Linked DNA regions of Homo sapiens. The protein of the gene in region 1 purifies or fractionates together with the protein of each later gene. This does not show direct contact. Each region holds a gene or a part of one and is shown in the gene's direction. Other genes may lie near its edges.

Region 1 (3,500 bases):
ATGAATTTTGTTTGGTTGGTTTTGGTTTTGGTTTTACATATATCCTAGGAACATAGCAGGTGATATAGAGTGGTAAAGAGCACACGTCCACTGTTAGTAGGTATTTTTATGCACTTGTTTTCTCATCTATAAAATAAGGATAAAATTAGTGCCTACCTCACAGGATATTAGGGAGATGAAGAGAATGCTCAGAACACAACAGGGCCTAGCACAGAGGAAGCACAATGCTGAGGAACGAGAAACTGCACCTGTAAATTCTGCAGTCACTTTAAATTATAAAACGAGTATTTGATGTATGATCATAACTTTGCTAAGAAGCCATCAGTTATAATGATGCATGAACTGTAGCAATCCAGTGAGTAGTGACAGGATGGAGGAGCTTTATGGAGGGGGAAGAAAGGAACCTCAAAGCTTTCTGATTCATTTTGAATCATGAGATGTCTACATGTAAAAATTCTGCCTTGGTAAACTTTGTTTATAATGTTTTAGATAATGCATTCACATGGTTCAGATGTATGAATGTGATATATTAGTTATTTGTTTATAAATATATATTTTATAAACATATTTATAAATATATAAATATATATTTTATAAACATATTTATAAATATATAAATATATATTTTATAAACATATTTATAAATATATAAATATATATTTTATAAACATATTTATAAATATATAAATATATATTTTATAAACATATTTATAAATATATAAATATATATTTTATAAATAAATATATATTTTATTTATAAAATAAAATAAACAATCTCTATTTATATTCCATTAAGGCTTAGTTTGGTTGGTTTAAAAGAAAGTCTGATCTTAAACTCTGGTTCTGAAAGACTAATAGTTCTTTGCATTTTCTCTTCTCTTTCGTTTGTTTCTAATTAGTGCTGTAGAAAACAAAACATCACCTCATTCAAAGTTCCAAGAAAGACAGTTCTGGTCAGGCCTAAAGGTGAGCAAAAACTGCAAAAATGAAAAGGCAATTTTTGTAAAAATCCTGTTTACTATAGAACAAAGAACAACAAACTTCTTCTATAAGAATTAGATAGTATTTTAGGCTTTGTGGTCACATGGTCTCTGTCGAATTACTCAACTCTGCCGCTGTAGCACAAAAACAGTCATAGTACATAAACAAATGAACATGGCTGTTTGAATAAAACTTATGAACACTGAAATTTGAATGTCATATAATTTCCTCATGGTACAAAATATTTTGTTTAAAGACAGTTTTAAAACGTCCTTGAAAAGTGTTAAAACCATTCTTAGCTCACGGACCCTATAAAAACAGGCAACAGGATGGATTTAACCCACAAGCTATATAGTTGGCTAACCCCTGGCCTTAAAATTATTGCTAAGTCAGTGGCAGTAGGGATGAGAAGGAGAAGAAGGTTCAAACAATGTTTGGGAGGAAGCATTGAAAGGAGTCGATAACTGATCAAGGGAAGATAAGATCTATTTTGTACATAATGAAGATATATGTGGGACAAATAGAGATACAGAGGTCTAGGAGGTGGTTGGATACATAAGTCTGAATTTCAGGAGACAGATCTGAGCTAGAGATTTGGGAGTCCACTACCTGTAGGTAATATTTGGAGCCATGGTCATGAATGGCAAGCTGCGTAAGGAGACTGGATGAAGCATGAGAAGTAGGCCAAGGACAGAACCTCGGGAAATACTAACAGAAGAGGAGAACATGGAGGCTTCAGGGAATCTGTAGAATCAATTATGAGCCTTAGGATGATCACAAGAGAATGGCCTCAAGGAAGCTAAATGAAAGATTTTCAAGAATGAAGAAAAGAGTGTTAAATGCCACCAAAGAGTATTAAGAGAAAGACTGAAACACTGTTTATTGGATTTGACAATTAGAAGGATATAGGTGACCTCACCAAGAGTAGTTTTAATAGTGTGAATTAATATTTGTCATGTGGTTGAATCAGGGAAAAGGCTTTCTGGGAAGAGGGAACAACATCAACAATGAGATAAAATGTGAAAAAGCATTACATTTTAGTAAAACAGCATGTAGTTCAGCACTCAGAGTAATGAATATAGTACTGCAAAAAAAGAAACACCTTAAAATTCACAGAAAGATCTGAATTTAGTAGAGGGAAAGGACAACCAATATTTTATTAGAATTTATTATGGTTACTTAATCCAAGTTATCTTCAAACTCAAAGGTGATTATAAATCTTTATGTATCAGAGGAATGAAGCTCTCAGCGTTGATTGCCTTCTCAAGGTCACATGTTGGTAATGGCGGCCCTAGTTTTGACAGTAGTTCTTTATGAATCACGTGGTCCTGTGGTCTTATACTTGATGGCCCCCGGCTTTGAGAGAAAATGGATTGGGAAGGAAGATTATTGATCTGGAAAGGCTCTAGTGAAGTTATTTGAGATAGATTTGGGGATGGTTATCCTAGAAAATGAAAATAAGATGAGCAAATACATGGAGTTTGGAAAGAATCAAGTATTTATTCAGAGATATTGTATTCTAAAATTGACAGTTCCAACAGGGCTAATTGTAGTGAGAATTTTAGTTTGACCAACTCTTCATGTTTGTTAGAGACTATTACAGTTTCTCTTTGGAGAAAAGGTACATATTTACTTGATATTTTATTTTAGCTCTTCCGCAATATTCTTCTTTGGAATGGACTCCTTACAGATGACACCTTGCAAGAACTAGGACTAGGGAAGCTGCTAAATCGTTACCTTATTATAGCACTTCTCAATGCCACACCTGGGCCAGATGTGGTTAAAAAGTGCAACCAGGTAAGTTGTGAAGGAAGACTGATTCTAATTTTATCATTTCTAAAAAATTTAGCTATTAAAATCTATTATTTAGCAAAATAATTAAATGTGTGGTACTCATATATAGACAAATGGGCCAGGCACAGTGGCTCATGCCTGTAATCCCAGCACTTTGGGAGGCTGAGGCAGGCGGATTGCGTGAGGTCAGGAGTTTGAGACCAGCCTCACCAACATGGTGAAACTCCGTCTCTACTAAAGATACAAAAATTAGCCAGGTGCGGTGGCTAACACCTGTAATCCCAGCTACTTGGGTGGCTGAGGCAGAAGAATCGCCTGAACCCAGGAGGCAGACGTTGCAGTGAGCCGCCATTGCACTCCAGCCTGGGTGACAAGAGCAAAACTCCATCTCAAAAAAAAAAATTGACAAATGAATTTAACAAAGCTAAAATGCAGAGCCGCTCTTCTGTATTTAAGAAAGAGTATACTGGTTTGAAATATCCCCAGTAGGGAAAGGAAAAATTACTTAATAAATGATGCTAGATGGCTGGCTGTTTACAAAAAGAATGTTAAGTCCTCACCTCTCACTATACACCAAAAAAATTTCAGGTAAAATTTTAAAAAATGTAAAAATGAAACTATAAAATATACTAAGATGGTAAATGACTATATTTGAGAGTGAGGGAGTTCCTTCTAAACTTAAAGGCAAAAGAAGAAATTATGAGAAAAAGTAATAAATTTGAAAA
Region 2 (3,500 bases), on another chromosome or scaffold:
GCTCATATCTGTAATCCCAGAACTTTAGGAGGATCACTTGAGCCCAGGAGTTGGAGACCAGCCTGGACAACATAATGAGACCCTCGACTCCATGCATGGTGATGTGTGGCAGTAGTCCAGACTACTAGGAAGCTGAGGCAGGAGCTTCCCTTGAGCCCAGGAGGGAATGCTACAGAGAGCAATGAACATGTGGCTGCGCTCCAGTCTGGGCAACAGAGTGAGACCCTGTCTCCAAAAAAAAAAAAAAAAAGGCTATATGCAGACAACCGACTCTTAACAGTAGTGACTAGATATAGTACTTATACACTTAACCACTCAACAGGAGGAGATGGACTTTCCTGATGCAAAGGCTTTTGCTGGCCAATTGGCAGAGATGCCAGGAATATGTGTGGGGATGGGAAATAGGCCTGGTGAGCTCAGCCACCTGACCCTCCTTGCTACACAGAAGCGGTCACGTCCTGTCAAGTAACCTGAATTATGTTTCTTAAAATTGAGAGGACTCAGATGTCTTTTTTCACTCTAGCTATGTTGTTTCCAGTCTCCAGTTAGCTTTGTTGTCCCACTCAGTGGCAGAGCGGTGCAAGACTACCCTCTTGAGTTTGGATCCCTCTTTGCTTTTGTCTGGGCTGTTAGCCACTAAGAAAAATGTAGGAATGAAATGTTGGGCTTCTGTGCCCACGTGGCCCATTTCTCATGCCCTCTTTTGGTCCTGCAGACACTCTCGAAAGCGATGGGAACGCTTTGTCCACAGTGAAAATCAGCACCTTGTCAGCCCTGAGGCCTTGGATTTCCTGGACAAACTGCTGCGATATGACCACCAGTCACGGCTTACTGCAAGAGAGGCAATGGAGCACCCCTATTTCTGTGAGTCCAGATATCTAGCCCACAGAGTTTGTGCAGGCGCAGAGTCCTATAGAACAGAGTCGTAATCCCAGCTCCTGTCAGCTTGCTGCAAAGTTAATTCACCCACACTGAGCCTCAGATTCTTCCAGTGGGGATAGTGATGGCAACTACATTGCAGAATTACTGGAAGAATTCTTCTGTAACAGAATACATGACACAAGAGCATTCCTAAATAAACTCTTTTCATACTGTGAGGATGACACTTCTCAGTGCCTCAGTCTGGAATGGTTGAATTAGAATACACAGCCCTGTATCTTTCCTGTCCCTAGTAATCATTCGTTGGAAAGAGCTAATGAGGCTTACAAATCTTAAAATTGTATGAACACCTTGACTTAGATTTGTGAGTATAGCCACCTGTGCCATCCTAAGTGAAAATACCACTGAGACCCACCCCATCTGCACTGTGATGTTAGCTGCAACATGACATTTTTCCTTCGGTGTGATGGTTTTGTACTGAATCATTTATACTTTTGCCCAATACCTGAAGCAGATAGATAGGCTGATTGGGATAGAGAATGTGGTCATAGCCCTAAGCTACATGGACCTATAGCTTTGGCCTACTTGGTACTGGGCTGTGGACACACTGGTAATATATTACCGTCTTTGCCGAGTTACAGTGTCTTGTCTCCATTAAACCTCAACAGGACCAGGGCTTCATTAAATTCGCTCTGCTATAAATAATTACCTCATCTTTCTACCATTTGATTGAAAGGTTAGCTTTTACCACAGTTTGATAGGAAAGCTATTTCTGCTTTTTACCACTTGTCTAATTCATGGTGAAGGCAATTGCCACCTTAAGTTCTTTGGGGAATAATGTAGAGTATATATAAATTGCAAAGAATGAAGCTGGCTGCTTTCAGGCTTCCAGACCATTAGTTTAATCTTTCAAGCAAAACAGAACCTAGCCTTTTTGTCTCTTTTCTAGACACTGTTGTGAAGGACCAGGCTCGAATGGGTTCATCTAGCATGCCAGGGGGCAGTACGCCCGTCAGCAGCGCCAATATGATGTCAGGTCAGTTCATTGGTAAATTTTCTTTAAAAAAATGTGGAAGTCAATTACTGTTCTTAGCTTTGTGGTCTGATTTCTTGTATACCTTCTCTTCTCCGTACTGGTGGCCTTGTGACTTTTTTTTAACCAGGTTTCAGCATGCTTGACATTTGGTATACTTTAGTGATACTGTCTTGAGTAGGGTATCCCCTTCTAGGCTAGAATCTCAGCATTCCTGGCTGAAAATTTTTGGCATAGGGGCTTGAAAGTGCCAAGCCATGAAAAGGAAAAATACACCATTTCATCTTATAGTTTGAAATGACAGTAGTTACATGGCCCTTAGAAACAATGTTAAGAAATGGGGTATAGAGGTGGGGTTTATACATAGGTGTGTATGTGTACAAGGACAGTTCCGTGACATGTGCCAGAGCAACTATAGAGTGCCTATCAGTTGTAAAAACATAAGTAAAATGGTTTTCCATTATTGGATCATTGTGACGCACAGTGAATTTTTATAGAGTACCCAGTTATTCCAAAGGAACTACAGGCACATAGCATAAGAATTATACATATAGGCAACATCCAAGTGGGTGCATATCTGGTAGTGAAGGCATTTACTTACATATCCTCAAATAATTGCTGTTGCCCTCCTCTTTTTTAAGAAAAGAACTAACTGCCTTCTAGAATTTACCCCTTGAGTATCCTACCTCTGTACAGAGTAATGTATATCCAAACTTACTTGTAGCCTTATTTGTAATAACAAAACATTGAGAATAGCTATCAGTAGGAAACTGGTTAAATCAGTTATGGTATATCCATTTAATGGAATGTGGTGCAGCCAGTAGAATAAGAGTTTCATGTTCTGTTAGATCTCCAACTCCAATATAATAATGTGAAATTTAAAACGCAAGATGCAGGGCCAGGTGCAGTGGCTCATGCCTGTAATCCCAGCACTTTGGGAGGCTGAGGCGGGTGGGTCACTTGAGGTCAGGAGTTCGAGACCAGCCTGGCCAGCATGGCGAAACCCTGTCTCTACTGGAAATACAAAAAATTAGCTGGGCGTGGCGGCGGCGCCTTTAATCCCAGCTACTTGGAGGCTAAGGCAAGATAATCGCTTGAACTTGGGAGGCAGAGGTTGCAGTGAGCCGAGATCGCACCGTTGCCCTCCAGCCTGGGTGAGAGTGAGACTCTGTCTCAAAAGAAAAAGTGAGATGCAGAGCCATGTCTAAGAGGAGTGGAGAAGAATGTATAATAATGTTCTCATATATATATATATATATATATATATATTTTTTTTTTTTTTTTTTTTTTTTTTTTTTTTTTTTTTTTTTTTGGAGACAAGGTCTTGCTCTGTGGCCAAGGCTGGAGTGCAGTGGCACAATCTCAGCTGCTGCAGCCTCCGCCTCCCGGGTTCAAGCGATTCTCCCACCTCAACCTCCCAGGTAGCTGGGACTACAGGCGCCCGCCATGACGCCCAGCTAATTTTTGTATTTTTAGTAGAGATGGGGTTTCACCATGTTGGCCAGGCTGGTCTTGAACTCCTGACCTCAGGTGATCCGCCCAACTTGGCCTCCCAAAGTGCTGGCATTACAGGCGTGAGACACTGCAC
Region 3 (3,500 bases), on another chromosome or scaffold:
TGGGACTACAGGCGCCCGCCACCACGCCCGGCTAATTTTTTGTATTTTTTGTATTTTTTGTATTTCACCGTGTTAGCCAGGATGGTCTCAATCCCCTGACCTCATGATCCGCCCGCCTCTGCCTCCCAAAGTGCTGGGATTACAGGCATGAGCCACCACGCCCGGCCGTTCCACTTTTTCTTATATTTTGACGACTGCTTCAAGGATTCTCCCTATGCATCATTTTAGCTTCTGGAGTGCAACTCCTAAGTGCCAGAGCTCCTTTTCATATGGTAGGCCACATTCTAGGTCTCAGTTCAGCCAATGGATTGTCTTGTCTTTGGTCATATTTCCACCCCTGCTTTAGGCAGCTGTGGTTTGATTTGAGGTAGGAGGAGAACTGGAGACTGGTGCAGAACCTGGCCAGCTGAGCTTAGCATTTGGTGGTTGTGCTGAATGAGGCAGTCTTTTTTTTGAGATGGAGTTGCGCTCTTTTTGCCCAGGCTGGAGTGCAATGGCATGATCTCGGCTCACTGCAACCTCTGCCTCCCAGGTTCAAGCAATTCTCCTGCCTCAGCCTCCCAAGTAGCTGGGATTATAGGCGCGTACCACTACTCCCGGCTAATTTTTGTATTTTTAGTAGAGACGGGGTTTCACAATATTGTCCAGGTTGGTCTCAAACTCCTGACCTCAGGTGATCCGCCCGTCTCCCAAAGTGCTGGGATTACAGGCGTGAGCCACTGTGCCTAGCCTGAGGCAGTCTTTCTTATAAGGGTCTCTGTGAATATAGTGCCTTGGTTAATCTGACTGATTCACCTTCTTTCTGTCTAGGAACATCTCAGTATCCAGTGAATGCACCTATGTTATCATATACCACTCTGTGTTGCAGTTGTGTATTTGCCCATCTCCTGGGATAAACTATAAGCTGCTTGAACAGAGACTAGGTTTCATTCATCATTGCAATGCTTGTCTAAAATAAGGCCTGGCACATAGTAGGACCTTATCCTAAGGAATTAGTGAACAGACGAGCAAGCACTGTCTTTGCCTCATCTCTGATCTTTCCCTCTTCCATTCTCTTTATTTGCTTCCTCCCACTCTGACTCTAGCTATACTGAACACCTTACAGTTCTTTGAATATAATGTTCTCTTTACCTGGATCAATGTTTGACTTTCTGTGTCCCCTATGTGTCCCATTGGCTTATAACTTCTTTTTTCCCCCTCACCAAAAGTTGTATGAAAAGATACTGTAGTACCATTACATCCTGTTTTACATGGCACTTTTCATGTAGTGTAGTGTTTACTTTGTGAACTCTTTAATGTCTTACTCATCTTTGTGTCTTTAGTTTAACGTACACATTGTTGTATAACTGAGTTAAACATCTTAGTCTTCTTGAGAAGCCTTGTGGTATGGTAGAGACTAGATCTGAAGTAAGATAGATTTGGTTCAGATCCCAGCAGCTCCACCATTTAAAGGTTATGTGGGTCTTGCAGGGATTACTTAACCCTTCTTCTCTGGTCCTGTTTCTGTAATATGGGAATCGTAGAGCTCATAAACTTGTTAGAAGGACTGATTGAGATGGGTGAGGTTTTTATTGTGCAGGGCCCATTATGGTGCTCCATAGATGTTAGTACTCTTTTCTTTCCTCTGTATTGAATGAAAATTGAATTGCTTCTCAGAGCCCCTCATGCTATATGTCATTGAAATAAGTAGATATGGAGTATTTTAATGAGAGGAATTATGAGTAGTTTGTGATTCTTTCATTCATTCAACAAATATTTATGTAATATTTAGTATGTGTCAGACCTGGCTGAGAATATGGGGATAAACGGGACAAGGTCCTCAAGCTCTTGTGGGGAACAAAGACAAAAAACAAGTTAAAATAATAGAATTTCAGGTAGTGATAAGCACTATAATGAAAGTTCAGGCACTAGGGAGTAGGGGGTGACTGATGGGTTAAAGGGTGTTTGAGTGGTCAGGGGAGGCCTTTCTGAAGCAGAGAGAGATAAATGGATTGAAATGATGGGTGGTCCTCTCCTGCAAAGATTTCTATTTCAGACCTATATTGAGATGCATTTTGTGTTAAGATCTCCAAACTGAGTCTATTCCATACTTCCCTACTCATTTCATAAAGTGAGGCTAAATCAGGCTAACTAGTGTCAGGTATAAAGACTTTGCTGCACATAATTGAAGCAGGAAGTATCAACTCGTCATTTACAGTGAATATAGAAGTTTCCTCCATTACTTCAGGTCCATAATAAAAGCCTGTTGTAGGGACTCAGAAATTTGGGTAATATTTTTATTATTATTTTGCTCTGGCTGGAGTGCAGTGGCATGATCATAGCTCGCTGCAACCTCGAACTCCTGGCCTCAAGTGATCCTCCCACAGCACTGAGATTACAGGCATGAACCCCTGCACCTGGCTGAAAATTTGGATCTTATACCAAGTTATGATTTCTGTCCTTCCCAACTAGCTTATAGATAAGAAAGCCAAACAGATCCCTTAAAGAGTTCAGCCTTGAATCACAGGCCTACCACAACTTAAGCCTAAAAATTATGAAGAAGTAACTTGGCAGTTGGGAAACTATTGGCTTATAACTTCTTTTTTCCCTCACCCAAAGCTGTATGAGAAGATACTATAGGCCAGGCATGAGGACAGAGAGGAGAGGGAGGAGGAAGGAGAAAAGGACAGTGGTGGGGGTGGGGGCGAGGAGGAGAAAAGAGAGAGAGGCAGAGGGGCGAAGAGGCAGGGGAGGGAGGAAGGAAGGAAAAGATGGTATATATGCTATAGTTTTCAGATTATTTTGTTTGGAATTACTGTATTTCAGCTTTTTTATTACTGGTATCTGTACTGAGGTCTGTTCTGTGCTGACAAGGAGAAAGAATAGGATGCTTCGGCTGGGCGTGGTGGCTCACGCCTGTAATCCCAGCACTTTGGGAAGCTGAGGTGGGTGGATCACGAGGTCAGGAGAATGAGACCATCCTGGCCAACATGGTGAAACCCTGTCTCTACTGAAAATACAAAAATTAGCCAGGCGTGGTAGTGTGCACCTGTGGTCCCAGCTACTCAGGAGGCTGAGGCAGGAGAATCGCTTGAACCTGGGAAGTGGAGGTTGCAGTGAGCCGAGATCACGCCACTGCACTCCAGCCTGGGCGACAGAGTGAGACTCCGTCTCAAAAAAAAAAAAAAAAAAAAGGAATAGGATGCATGTTGCTCAGTCATCGAAATGAACCATCCTTTTTATCAATAACGATCCCATGAACCCTTACTTATGCCAGACTTTTTCTGTAGGGAGAAATATGGCCCTTTCAGCGTGAATTTAACGTGACTGTTGTTCACTGGGTTAGAAACAGGTCAATAAATAGATGGTTCAGTACAGAAGGCTAATTGGTACATTGACATTTAATAATATAAATCGAATTTCTTTTTGTATTATATACAAAGTTCCTAGCTTTTAATTATAACTTGACCTTTGCGTCCTTCTCCATAAAAGTTAAAGGATACATTGCTTCATTTAAATCT
Region 4 (2,700 bases), on another chromosome or scaffold:
AACCGTTAATAACATGCTTCTGAGCTATGTGGATGTATAAATGAAAACACCCCCAACTAGGTATTGTAGAGGCTGGAAAAAGATGTGATGGGATTATACAGGTGATGCATATTTTTGTTTTGAGACTCAACAATGTGCTACAAATGTGATACTTAACCCTGAACTGCATGTATTGGGGATTGTTTTTTAAAAAGAAAAAAAACAACTTTGAATCAATAAATTAACAGTTTTTCACTTGCTGGCTCTTCTTGCTGTAAATGGTGACTAAGAGGTTGGGACAGAAATCTTGACAACTAGTGGAAAACTTGGATAATCTTCAAGGACCATGGAGCCTTCTGTTTCCTTCTGTTTGCAGAAAAGCAACACTGCCTGGGTTGTGATCCTTTACAAGTGACTACTTCAGACACAATTGGCCACCTCTTTGTATCACTGGATGACTGATGTATGATTTATGTGCTGCTGCCCTTAGAGGGAAGAAAAATGCCATGTTAAATCCTGTTTTCTTAAATAAAAATGTTGACAATAACCAGCCTTCCCAAGTGGGAGACAAACCATTGCTATGAGGACCTTAACTTGTATTTCCTGTCTCTTTGGGGGAGAGGGGAGGGATAAACCTTGAATTGCAAAGATGTGTGTTACACCTTGATGTGAAAACTTTCCTTTGGCAGAAGTGGGGCTAGAGTGGTGTCCTGTTGGGAGTGTTCCGTTTTTATGTACTTGCTTCTGAGTCGCGCCACTCAGACACCTGCCTCTTGGGATTGACTGTTTTAGTGCATGACTTTAACCTTGTGGCCTGGTGCTCTGCATTTGTGAAACACTCTCCCTAGCCCCATTCCTTGCAGCACATGCTATTATTTGGCAGGTGGTGGTATCTTTAATTAATGTGCTTTCTTTAATTAGTGTGCTTTCTTCTCACTGAGCCTCTGAAGTTGGGTGCTTGGAATCAGCTGAAGTGTTTAAAGGCAAATATAGTCATTTCTTTCTTAACCTCATGCACCATGCAGCCCTTCTCAAATCAAATACTACGCAGTGGAACCCTTCCTTTACCCAAAGAAAGTTTTCATGAAATGATTTTGTGTGTGTGACAGCTTCCCAGGTGCATAGTCCTTCCTCAGTACTGTAGTGCTGTTCTGGGAGGCACTGCTTCTAGAATTCCACTGCCGGCATCTCACCACCCACTTGCTATGCTGGACCTGGAAGGAGAAATGAGGTTTTCAGGCCATGCCAGGCAGCTAGCTGTTTCCAGGGGAGAGTTAAAAATATTTGAGCTCACTTACTGCTCTTTGTTTATTAGTGGACTCAGCCCTTTTTCTGAGTAAATACAGACCCCGTCTTAGTCCTAAGACACCTCAGATAATCAGGTCAGGTCTGAGGGGGACCTAGAGCTGACTGCTGAATTTGTAGCTTGACTGGCACAGAATGGTCAAGAGGCTCTGAGGCTTCTCCATCAGCACCCTGGACCCGAGGGATGGGGTAGAGTGGAAGACCTGGTCACAACACACGTGGTGCCCAGAGCACCCGTCCTGTGACAGAAGGCCGTGCTAGAGACCATCTCTGTCATGATAATCAGAAGAGGAAGGCAGAGGGTACTGTTGGAAACCTGAACTCAGCGAGTTCTCACAGGGTTCTCCACCAAGTGGCATGGGAGGGCCGAGCTTGCATTCTAGCACAGGCCCTCCTACACGTGGAGGCCTCCCCTCGCCCGCTCAGGTTGATTAATGACGTCTTTCCCTCCTCCCGTCTCTTTCCCCAGGTCTGTTGCGGTTCTCCCACTTTTCCATAAGCAGAACAAGAACCAAATCAAACGTCTTAACGCGTATAGAGAGATCACGTTCCGTGAGCAGACACAAAACGGTGGCAGGTTTGGCGAGCACGAACTAGACCAAGCGAAGGGCAGCCCACCACCGTATATCAAACCTCACTTCCGAATGTAAAAGGCTCACTTGCCTTTGGCTTCCTGTTGACTTCTTCCCGACCCAGAAAGCATGGGGAATGTGAAGGGTATGCAGAATGTTGTTGGTTACTGTTGCTCCCCGAGCCCCTCGACTCGTCCCGTGGCCGCCTGTTTTTCCAGCAAACCACGCTAACTAGCTGACCACAGACTCCACAGTGGGGGGACGGGCGCAGTATGTGGCATGGCGGCAGTTACATATTATTATTTTAAAAGTATATATTATTGAATAAAAGGTTTTAAAAGAAACGTATGGAGAGTTTTCAGTATGGAAAGGGCCGTGAACTGAGGCCTGTGACTCAGGATGAGACAAAAGCGCATTCGTGCCAGGTTCTAACCAGACGAAGCAGGGGAGGTCCCTGGGACAAGGTGGGCCAGTTTTCATTTTTGTTTTTAAACAGTCTTGCTCTGTCATGGAGGCTGGAGTGCAGTGGCGCAACCATAGCTCACTACAGCCTCGGCCTCCTGGCCTCAAGTGATCCTCCTGCTTCAGCCTCCTGAGTAGCTGGGATTACAGGTGCATGCCACCACACCTGACAAGTTTTCTTAAGTTTTTTTTTTGTAGAAATGGTCTTGCCACGTGGCCCAGGCTGGTCTCAAACTCCTGACTCAAGTGATCCTCTTTCCTAGTCCCCCTAAAGTGCTGGGTCTACATAGAGGTGTGAGCCACCACACTCAGCCAAGGAGGGCCCGTTTGTAAGGACTCTCTTCCAGAGCTGAGTGGTGTTAAGAGGTACACAGTGAACCAG
Region 5 (3,500 bases), on another chromosome or scaffold:
GGCCCAGCAACGCATATTCTTGAAACATCCACTTTGACCAAATCTCTTCTCTACCTCACAACTCTTGCTGAATTAACTCTTCTTTAGCTTCCTAGACGTTCAACATCTGGCTGGGCTGTATCTGTCCAGCCAGTTTCTCTTCCTTTACATTTATAGCATGTTTCATCTTACATTCAGTCCAGGATCTTAGTAGCCCAAACCCCTGATGCTCATCTCCAAATCTGTGTTTTGCTTGTATTTTTCTTTCTAGAATGAACTCCCCTCTTTGCTCTGTTAATCACAGTCCCTCCTTAAGACACGTTTTTTTGTGCAGCTTTTTTCTGATCCTAGTAGCCTTAATTTCTTTTGTTCCTGAACTCTGTAAAACAGTGTATAGTTTAGCACATACTCATGTGTCAGCTTGTGGTATTGTCTTGTTGAAAGGGGCTGTCAGCCTGGTCATTGGACACGGCCATTTGATACTCTTTGTACCTTCTAAGTGCCTAACATTTAACATCAGTGTTCAATAGAAACGTAGTTGGATTATTTCAAAACTAGGATATTCTGTTCTAGTTGATCTGGGAGGGTAGAGACTAAATTTCCATTTTCTTCTCTCTTGCTTTTAAGTTGGCTAAGTGGAAGACAGCTGAGGAGGTGGCCGCCCTGATCCGATCTCTGCCTGTGGAGGAGCAGCCCAAGCAGATCATTGTCACCAGGAAGGGCATGCTGGACCCACTGGAGGTAAGAGGGTGGGGTGGGGTAGGAGAAAAGAGACCTTGAGACCTTCAGGCTGTTTCTCATCTTGGACTTGATCTTGTCTTAGGTGCACTTACTGGACTTCCCCAATATTGTCATCAAAGGATCGGAGCTCCAACTCCCTTTCCAGGCGTGTCTCAAGGTGGAAAAATTCGGGGATCTCATCCTTAAAGCCACTGAGCCCCAGATGGTTCTCTTCAACCTCTATGACGACTGGCTCAAGACTATTTCATCTTACACGGTATGAACCTCGGGAAGAGAAGATCGCTGGAGGAGGAGCGGGTTTAGGGTTAGGAGAAGATCCTGTGTCAGGTTTTTGCCATTTTCACATTTTTAGCCTATAGATTGGGTGGGAACTCTGTTGACTTTCATGAGAGTTTAAGACCTTAAAGTTAAAAATCAACTCTTGGGGCCGGGCGTGGTGGCTCACGCCCGTAATCCCAGCACTTTGGGAGGCTGAGTTGGGTGAATCACCTGAGGTCAGGAGTTTGAGATCAGGCTGGCCAACATGACGAGACCCCATCTCTACTAAAAATACAACAAAATTAGCCGAGTGTGCTGGGATGCACCTGTAGTCCCAGCTACTCGGGAGGCTGAGGCACCAGAATCACTGGAACCCAGGAGGCAGAGGTTGCAGTGAGCCGAGATGGCACCATTGCACTCCAGCCTGGGCGACAGAGTAAGACTGTCTAAAAAAAAAAAAAAAAAGGCCGGGCGCAGTGGCTCACGCCTGTAATCCCAGCACTTTGGGAGGCCGAGGCGGCGGATCACGAGGTCAGGAGATTGAGACCATCCTGGCTAACACAGTGAAACCCCATCTCTACTAAAAATACAAAAAATTAGCCGGGCGTGGTGGCAGGTGCCTGTCATCCCAGCTATTCGGGAGGCTGAGGCAGGAGAATGGTATGAACCTGGGAGGCGGAGCTTGCAGTGAGCCGAGATCATGCCACTGCACTCCAGCCTGGGCGACAGAGCAAGACTCTGTCTCAAAAGAAAAAAAAAAAATTCTTGGGTTTCATGAAAGGTTAGGATTAAAGTGGGAGAGCCTCAAGCAGCTGACCTACCCCACTCTTCCAAATCTTTTCCCAGGCCTTCTCCCGTCTCATCCTGATTCTGCGTGCCCTACATGTGAACAACGATCGGGCAAAAGTGATCCTGAAGCCAGACAAGACTACTATTACAGAACCACACCACATCTGGCCCACTCTGACTGACGAAGAATGGATCAAGGTCGAGGTGCAGCTCAAGGATCTGATCTTGGCTGACTACGGCAAGAAAAACAAGTGAGCAGTGCTGGTGGGGACACAGACAGGAGGTCTATATACGGTTTTCTGGGGTTTTTTGGAAGCACTTAGGCTTAGAAGTTTCTCAAGAAGGCCAGGCGCGGTGGCTCATGCCTGTAATCCCAGCACTTTGGGAGGCCAAGGTGGGTAGATCATTTGAGGTCAGGAGTTTGAAACCATCCTGGCCAACGTGGTGAAACTCCGTCTCTACTAAAAATACAAAAGTTAGCCGGGTGCGATGGCGCCTACCTGTAATCCCAGCTACTCGGGAGGCTGAGGCAGGAGAATTGCTTGAACCTGGGGGCAGAGGTTGCAGTGAGCCGAGATCATGCCACTGCACTCCAGCCTGGGCGACAAGAGTGAGACTGTCTCCAAAAAAAAAAAAAAAAAAGACGTTTCTCAAGAAATTATCTTGTCTTAGCCAGGCTTGAGTGCTCATGCTAGTAATACCAGCACTTTGGGAGGCCAAGGTGGGAGGATTGCATGAGCCAGGAGTTGAAACCAGCCTGATCAACAAGAGACTGACGCCATCTCTACCAAAAAAAAAAAATTTAAAACAGGTGTGGTGGTACACGCTTGTAGTCCCAGCTTCTTGGAGGCTGAGGCAGGAGGCTTGCTTGAGCCCGGGGGTTTGAGGCTGCAGTGAGCCATGATGATGCCACTGTACTCCAGCCTGGGTAACAGAGCGAGACTCTTGTCTTGAAAACAAGGAAAGAAATTATCTTACAGAGTCTCGAGGAAGAGAGATACAGCAGTGTCTTCGAATAGTATGGGAAGCATCCCTGTTTTAGGGCTTCAGTCTGACTCTTGGCCATTGTTTCTCACTGTTGCCATTTCAAACAGGGCATTTCTTTACTGTCCATACATGGGAAGAATTTTGAACATCCGAGACCCTAAGTATCCGAGACTGCTGCCAACACACACACACACCTTCCTCCCCTCGTCTCCCTCCCTGTCATCGTGGCAACCAAAATTATCCATAGGGTGACGGACAATACCACCTCTGATTAAGAACCAGTATTCTAGGGTTTCTGGGGTTTCCATTTCTGAGAACAGTTCCATGCCAGAGCATTGTTTTGGTCAAGGAAGCGTAGGGTTTATGGATGCTAAACAGTGGGAAGGTGCACACGCAGTGTGCTGTCCCGCTTGGATCTGACGAATCTTGGAAGTGTTAGTGCACCTCCGTTTCACACTTCCTGTAGAAGCAGCTCTTGTGGATTGTCTGGGGCGTGAGTATAGGCTGTCCTGTCCTACCAAGTTACACCCTTTCCATTGAGGCAGAAGTGACCAAGGGGAAGGGATCCTTGTAATATAACCCACACCATCCCCACAGTGTGAACGTGGCATCACTGACACAATCAGAAATTCGAGACATCATCCTGGGTATGGAGATCTCGGCACCGTCACAGCAGCGGCAGCAGATCGCTGAGATCGAGAAGCAGACCAAGGAACAATCGCAGCTGACGGCAACACAGACTCGCA
Region 6 (3,500 bases), on another chromosome or scaffold:
GTTTTGAGGCCAGGTGCGGTAGCTCACACCTATAATCCTGGCACTTTTGGAGGCCGAGGTGGGCGGATCATGAGGCCAGGATATCGAGACCATCCTGTTTAACATGGTGAAACCCCGTCTCTACTAAAACTACACAAAAATTAGCCGGGCATGGTGGCATGTGCCTGTAGTCCCAGCTACTCGGGAGGCTGAGGCAGAAGAATGCTGTGAACCCGGGAGGCGGAGGTTGCGGTGAGCCAAGATTGCGCCACTGCACTCCAGCCTTGGCGAGAGTGCGAGACTCTGTCTCAGAAAAAAAAAAAAAATTAGTTTTGAAATAATTTTAAATTTGCAGGAATTTGCAAAAATAGTGCCCCCCCAAAAAAAAGTTTCTGCATGTCTTTCACCAAGCTTCTCCCGATGTTACATGACCTTAGTGCAGTTATTGAAACGAAGGAGTTAACATTGACACAGTACTATTAACTAATTTGTCAGTCGTATTTGCATTTCATGTTTTTCCATGAATGTCCGCTTTCTGGCTTAGGCTTAGTCCAGGATCCCCCATTGCATTTCGTCATGTCTCCTTGGTCCCTTCCAATTGGGGGTCTCCTCTGTCTTCCATGCCCTTGACGCTTGAAGAGTAGTCACCAGTTATATGGTAGACTGTCCCTTGATTTGGCTTCGTTGGCTGAAGAAAATAATTTAGCAAGTATTTCACAAGTAGAGATCTCCGTTTCGCTGGTGGGGATGGTGTTGAAGGAAAAGCTGACCTCTACACGTGTTGTTTGCTTCTCAGTTTAATGGCTATGCTGGGAGCCTCTTCTCAAGTGGACCCTACGAGAAAGATGATGAGGAAGCAGATGCTATCTATGCAGCCCTGGATAAAAGGATGGATGAAAGAAGAAAAGAAAGACGGTAAAAGAAATTGTTGCCTTTCACAATATTTATCCAAGTTTAAAAAAAAGTTTTGTGGCCAGGCGCAGTGGCTCACGTGTGTAATCCTAGCACTTTGAGAGGCTGAGGTAGGACGATAGCTAGAGCCCAGGGGTTTGAGACCAGTGTGGGCAACGTAGGGAGACTTAATCTCTACAAATAATTTAAAAATTAGCCAGATGGTACACACCTGTAGTCCCAGCTACTTGGGTGGCTGAGGTGGAAGGACCGTTTAAGCCCAGGAGGTAGAAACTGCAGTGAGCCATGATCATTCCAGCCTGGTTGGCATAGTGAGACCCTGTCTCAAAAAAAAAAAAAAGTTTTGTTTTGAATTGTTTTATATTTGGAGAAAAGTTGCAATAGAGTATGTGTGTCTGCTTAGCTTTTAGGCCACCTGAGGGTCTTGGTCTGTCGTAGCCATGCCTGGATAAGCACTGGGCTGTTACAGAACAGCCTTAGGGCCTGGGGGCTGCAGTGGAGAGCTTAAGAACTCTTAAGTTTTTCCAGAAATCAGCAGAATTTTGTGGATTACTTTTACGATACATCAGGGTTACCATCTTTGAAATGAAAAGGGCCTACTGACTTGATTATTATATGTTGAGTAATTTGCAAATGAATTAAAGATGTTAAATGACACATACAAGCTACCAAGATTGAACCATGAAGAAATCCCAAACCTGAACAGACCAATAAAAGGTAATGAGATCAAAGCTGTAACAGAAAGTGTCCTAGCAGAGAACATCTCAGGATCTGATTGCTTCATTGCTGAATTTTACCAAATATTTGAAGAAGAACTAATACCAATTCTACTCAGACTATTCTGAAAAATAGAGGAGGGAATACTTCCAAACTTATTCTACAGAACCAGTATTACCCTGATACCAAAACCAGACAAAGACACACTGAAAAAAGAAAATGTTAGGTCAGTATCCCTGATGAACACTGATGCAGAAATCAGCAGAATACTAGCAAACCATATTCAACAACACATTAGAAAGATGGTTCATCGGCTGGGCGCAGTGGATCACGCCTGTAATTCTAGCACTTTGGGAGGCCGAGGTGGGCGGATGATGGGTCATCTGAGGTCAGGAGTTCAAGACCAGTCTGGCCAACCTAGTGAAACCCAGTCTCTACTAAAAATACAAAAATTAGCCGGGCATGGTGGGTGGTGTACGCCTATAATCCCAGCTACTTGGGAGGCTGAGGCAAGAGAATCGCTTGAACTCGGGAGGTGGAGGTTGCAGTGAGCCGAGGTCACAACACTGCACTCTAGCCTGGGAGACAAGAGCAAGACTCCATCTCAAAAAAAAAAAAAAAAAAAGATCGTTCATCATGACCAAGTGGCATTTTGCCCAGGGGATACAAGTGCAAGGGTGGTTCAACATATGCAAATTAATCAGTGTTATACATCATATCAACAGAATGAAGGACAAAAACCATATGATCTTTTTTTTTTTTTTTTTGAGACGGAGTCTCGCTCTGTTGCCCAGGCTGGAGTGCAGTGGCGCAATCTCAGCTCACTGCAACCTCCACCTCCTGGGTTCAAGTGATTCTCCTGCCTCAGCCTCCTGAGTAGCTGGGACTACAGTTGCCCGCCACCACGCCTGGCTAATTTTTTGTATTTTTAGTAGAGACGGGATTTCACTGTGTTAGCCAGGATGGTCTTGATCTCCTGACCTCATGATCCACCTGCCTCGGCCTCCCAAAGTGCTGGGATTACAGGCGTGAGCCACTGCGCCCGGCCTAATCATTTTAATTGATTCTGAAAATGCATTTGATAAGATTCAACATTCCTTGATGATAAAAACTCTCAAAAAACTGCATATAGAAGAAACATACCTCAGGCTGGGTGTGGTGGCTCACGTCTGTAATCCCAGCACTTTGGGAGGCTGAGGCGGGAGGACTGCTTGATCTCAGGAGTTTGAGACCAGCCTAGGCAAGAGGGTAATACCTTTTCTTTACAAAAAAATACAAAAATTAGCCAGGCTTCGTGGCACACACCTGTAGTCCTAGCTACTCAGGAGGCTGAGATGGGAGAATTACTTGAGCCCAGGAGGCAGAGGTTGCAGTGAGCTGAGATCATACCACCACACTTCAGCCTGGGCCACAGAGCGAGACCCTGTCTCAAAAAAAAAAAAAAAAAAAAGGGGGGGGGAGCATAACACAATAAAAGCTATATACAGCTGGATGGGGTGGTTCACGCCTGTAATCACAGCCCTTTGGGAGGCCCAGGCAGGCAGATCATTTGAGGTCAGGAGTTTGAGACCATCCTGACCAACATGGTAAAACCCTGTCTCTACTAAAAATCCAAAGATTAGTTGGGTGTGGTGGCTCAGGCCTATAATTTCAGCTACTCAGGAGGTGGAGGTTACAGTGAGCTGAGATTGTGCCACTGCACTCCAGCCTGGGCAACACAATGAGACTGTGTCGCAAAGAAAAAAAAAAGCCACATATGGTAGGCCCACAGCTCGTATCATACTGAATGGGGAAAAACTGGAACGCAACAAGGATGCCCACTTTCACCACTGTGATTCAACATTGTACTGGAAGTCCTAGCTAGAGCAGTCGGACCAGAGAAATAAATAAAA
Region 7 (3,500 bases), about 21 Mb from region 1:
TCATCACCCGCAAGGGTGGTGAGCGCACCTACACCCAGCTGGTGCGGCTCATCATTCTGGTGAGTTGGGAGCAGTCGTAGAATATAGAGTCCAGTTGTGTCAGGGCGGGTTTGCTGGGTTTTCATGCGAAATGTTTCTTTGCTGCCTTTTCTGTAGGCACTAGCCTTTGTAATGACTAGTCCTCCAATTCCGTAGGATGAGATCCATCTTCTCCACGATGACAGAGGTCCTGTCTTAGAAGCTTTGGTGGCCAGGGCCATCCAAAACATTATAATGACAGCTATTGTCAGCTTGTGTTTGCCATCTTATTTATTTATTTATTTGTTTGTTTGTTTGTTTGAGATGGAGTCTAGCTCTGTCGCCCAGGCTGAGTACAGTGGCACGATCTTGGCTCACTGCAGCCTCTGCCTCCCGAGTTCAAGCAATTCTCCTGCCTCAGCCTCCCCTGTAGCTGGAATTACAGGCGCCTGCCACCATGCCCAGCTAATTTTTATATTTTTAGTAGAGACTGGGTTTCACTGTGTTGGCCAGGCTGGTCTCGAACTCCTGACCTCGTGATCTACCCACCTCAGCCTCCCAAAGTTCTGGGATTACAAGCGTGAGCCACTGCGCCTAGCCTGCCATGTTATTCTTTATATATTTTTTTATGTCTGAAATATTTTACTACACTTGATCTTAAGCCAAAAGGCCAAGAAGCTATGTCTGAAATATTTTGAAACAAATGTAAACAGATAGACAAAAAACCATCATATCCAACATCATTTAGGGTTTTATAAGTAAAAGAATCCATTCTCTGAGGGAATGAGTGAGGAAGCAGGATATTGTATTCCATATACACAGAAACTTCCAGAGATTAGTGACTAAGTCTGAGTATAGTTTAAGTTGTCTGGGAAAAGCAAGAAAGGAGACTTCACGTGTTGGTTTTCAGTGTTCTGGAGCAGGGGTTGGCAGTCTGTGGGTACTGGCTTTGTTCTGTTGGAACATAGTTACACCCATTTGTTTATGTATTGTTTACAGCTGCTTTTGGCTGCAATGGCAGAGCTGAGTATTTGCAATAGGGGCTGCGTGGGCCAAAGCCTGAAATACTGACTGTCTGGCTTTTTTTTTTTAGACGGAGTTTCACTCTTGTTGCCCAGGCTGGAGTGCGATGATGCAATCTCAGCTCACTACAGCCTCCGCCTCCCGGGTTCAAGCAGTTCTCCTGCCTCAGTCTCCCGAGTAGCTGGGATTACAGTTGCCCGCCACCATGCCCAGCTAATTTTTTGTATTTTTAGTAGAAATGGGGTTTCACCAATCTGATGGCCAGGCTGGTCTCGAACTCCTGGCCTTGGGTGATGCACCTACCTCAGCCTCCCAAAGTGCTGGGATTACAGGCGTGAGCCACTGCCCCCGGCTTTTTTTTTTTTTTTTTTTTGAGATGGAGCATCTGACTTTTTAAAAAAAACATTTCTGGTCCCTGCTTTAGAGCTTTGCTACTTGAAGCCTGATCCATGGTTGGGGTCATAGCAGCAGCAGCATGGAATAGGAGCTTGTTAGAAATGCAGGATTTGTGGCCTCACCCCACACCTGCTGAATACAATCTCCTTTTTAACAACATCCCCTGGCTTTGGGATACTTAATAAAATTTGAGATGCACTGCTTTAGACTATTCAAACTCATCATTTGATGTGTGATAGCTTTTGTTCTTGGGAACTATAACTGCCAGAGGTGAAGCTTCTGATCAGATCATATTTATATCCTTTTTCATAAAGAAGTTTACCTTTAAGTAAAGTTTAAACTCATTTATCTGAGTTTCAGAATTTCTTTATACAAAGTATGTTACTGAACTGTACCAAAGCAACTCATGGTCAGAGTCTGTTACTTTCTGGAGTATTTCATGGGAAATATTGTCTCCATCCTTTGGGCATCTGTGGCTTGGGATCCCTTGTCTTTTTTCTTAGGCATATTAGGTTATATGCCTACAATATGGGACAATTCCAGGAAAAGGGACTATGTATCTCTAGTGCTAGAGGTAATTTCTGTCCTCCAATTCCGTAGGATGAGATTCATCTTCTCCACGATGACAGAGGTCCTGTCTTAGAAGCTTTAGTGGCCAGGGCCATCCGAAACATTGAGATGACCCAAGAGGATGTCCGACTCATTGGTCTCAGTGCCACCCTACCCAACTATGAAGATGTAGCCACCTTTCTACGTGTTGACCCTGCCAAGGGTCTCTTTTACTTTGACAACAGGTATCAGGAAAGACTGGGCAAAGTTCTGCCAAGGTGACCATCCTGCTCTCTTTCCTCTTTTCCAAGGAGTGCTACTGGGTTGGGTTTTAGAAGGGCCTTTGGGTTTTGATGTGGTGTGAATCATAAAGGAGGAATATTGCTCTTGGGGCAGTGAAAAAGACTGTTTATTCCCACAGTATTTTCTGCCAAAGCCTCATTTGTCTAACTGTTGAACTTCTAGCTTCCGTCCAGTGCCTCTGGAACAGACATATGTGGGTATCACAGAGAAAAAAGCTATCAAGCGTTTCCAGATCATGAATGAAATCGTCTATGAAAAAATCATGGAACATGCTGGAAAAAATCAGGTTTGCCCGTGGTTTATGGTTACTCTTGAACCCCATTCTTTCGAATGTTTGATTCACCAATAATTGGGGAAGATTGACAGAAATTAAAAGAGAGAAGACACAACATAAATCACCAATATCAGCTATGAAATGGGATATTACTACAGAACCTATAGCCACTGGAAGGATAATAAGGGAATACTATGAGTAATTTTATGCTCATAACTTTAAAAATTCAGAAGAAATGGACCAGTTCTCCAACAACTACCAGTTAACTAGCAAAACTCAGCCCAGATGAAATAGATAACATGAAGAGCCCTACAACTATTAGAGAGTTGGAGAATTAAAAATCCCCCCAGCAAGCAATCCCCAGTCCCAGATAATTGTTTTGTGCATTCGCATTATCCAGGGTCCCTCCATAAAAGATTTGGGGTCACTTACACTAAAAATGCAAGACAATAAAAAGAGGAAAATGAAAAACTAGAGGGCATTTTACTAGACAGTGTGATAGAATTTTTAAATTGAAAGTCGAGTTGAGCAATGTTAACTAACAAAAAATAAGGAAAAGTGACTGGTTTTGTATTTCTTTTTGTCTGATGAAAAGAAGCATATGAATTTATATGAAGAGACAGATCTTTTCTTGGCACTAAATACTAGGAAGACTTCATTCCCTACAACAGTGTACTAGTCTCAGACTTATTTCCTAAATCCTTTTATAAGTAGTGTAATGTTTTAGTTGTTATTTTGCAGACACATTTTCATGCAGCTTTGACTCTTGTTAGGTGCTTGAACATAAATTCTGAGTTGAGAGGCCCGAATTTGTAGTTGTAGTCTATTTAAAGTTGCTGTTCAAGATAGGATGTTGAAGTTGGTTTAATTTCTCAGCTCCAGGACTGTGAACTTGGTGGGTGCATTCCCTTAAAAGTCTTTCCAGCCGTGTTTAGGC

The links.
Region 2: the proteins of GCFC2 (region 1) and CSNK2A1 purify together in Homo sapiens (affinity purification with mass spectrometry; 3 studies listed by BioGRID and IntAct, with this or other methods). This does not show direct contact.
Region 3: the proteins of GCFC2 (region 1) and TMED10 purify together in Homo sapiens (co-immunoprecipitation; one large-scale study listed by IntAct). This does not show direct contact.
Region 4: the proteins of GCFC2 (region 1) and CSNK2A2 purify together in Homo sapiens (affinity purification with mass spectrometry; 3 studies listed by BioGRID and IntAct, with this or other methods). This does not show direct contact.
Region 5: the proteins of GCFC2 (region 1) and PRPF8 purify together in Homo sapiens (affinity purification with mass spectrometry; 3 studies listed by BioGRID and IntAct, with this or other methods). This does not show direct contact.
Region 6: the proteins of GCFC2 (region 1) and PRPF6 purify together in Homo sapiens (affinity purification with mass spectrometry; 3 studies listed by BioGRID and IntAct, with this or other methods). This does not show direct contact.
Region 7: the proteins of GCFC2 (region 1) and SNRNP200 purify together in Homo sapiens (affinity purification with mass spectrometry; 4 studies listed by BioGRID and IntAct, with this or other methods). This does not show direct contact.

Annotation. Positions count from the first base shown.
Region 1 is NC_000002.12:75,669,416-75,672,915, reverse strand, and holds part of GCFC2 (intron Large complex component GCFC2), read left to right. Parts: exon of another isoform or gene 1-600; intron 601-899; coding exon 900-966; intron 967-2,631; coding exon 2,632-2,778; intron 2,779-3,500.
Region 2 is NC_000020.11:484,791-488,290, reverse strand, and holds part of CSNK2A1 (casein kinase II subunit alpha), read left to right. Parts: intron 1-715; coding exon 716-864; intron 865-1,828; coding exon 1,829-1,915; intron 1,916-3,500. UniProt on the Homo sapiens protein: Catalytic subunit of a constitutively active serine/threonine-protein kinase complex that phosphorylates a large number of substrates containing acidic residues C-terminal to the phosphorylated serine or threonine.
Region 3 is NC_000014.9:75,166,613-75,170,112, reverse strand, and holds part of TMED10 (transmembrane emp24 domain-containing protein 10 precursor), read left to right. Parts: intron 1-3,500. UniProt on the Homo sapiens protein: Cargo receptor involved in protein vesicular trafficking and quality control in the endoplasmic reticulum (ER) and Golgi.
Region 4 is NC_000016.10:58,157,407-58,160,106, reverse strand, and holds the end of CSNK2A2 (casein kinase II subunit alpha'), read left to right. Parts: exon of another isoform or gene 1-1,753; 3' UTR 1,754-2,200; downstream 2,201-2,700.
Region 5 is NC_000017.11:1,653,868-1,657,367, reverse strand, and holds part of PRPF8 (pre-mRNA-processing-splicing factor 8), read left to right. Parts: intron 1-606; coding exon 607-720; intron 721-802; coding exon 803-976; intron 977-1,824; coding exon 1,825-2,018; intron 2,019-3,351; coding exon 3,352-3,500. UniProt on the Homo sapiens protein: Plays a role in pre-mRNA splicing as core component of precatalytic, catalytic and postcatalytic spliceosomal complexes, both of the predominant U2-type spliceosome and the minor U12-type spliceosome.
Region 6 is NC_000020.11:63,984,132-63,987,631, forward strand, and holds part of PRPF6 (pre-mRNA-processing factor 6), read left to right. Parts: intron 1-775; coding exon 776-894; intron 895-3,500. UniProt on the Homo sapiens protein: Involved in pre-mRNA splicing as component of the U4/U6-U5 tri-snRNP complex, one of the building blocks of the spliceosome.
Region 7 is NC_000002.12:96,292,047-96,295,546, reverse strand, and holds part of SNRNP200 (U5 small nuclear ribonucleoprotein 200 kDa helicase), read left to right. Parts: coding exon 1-59; intron 60-2,037; coding exon 2,038-2,231; intron 2,232-2,451; coding exon 2,452-2,575; intron 2,576-3,500. UniProt on the Homo sapiens protein: Catalyzes the ATP-dependent unwinding of U4/U6 RNA duplices, an essential step in the assembly of a catalytically active spliceosome. Plays a role in pre-mRNA splicing as a core component of precatalytic, catalytic and postcatalytic spliceosomal complexes.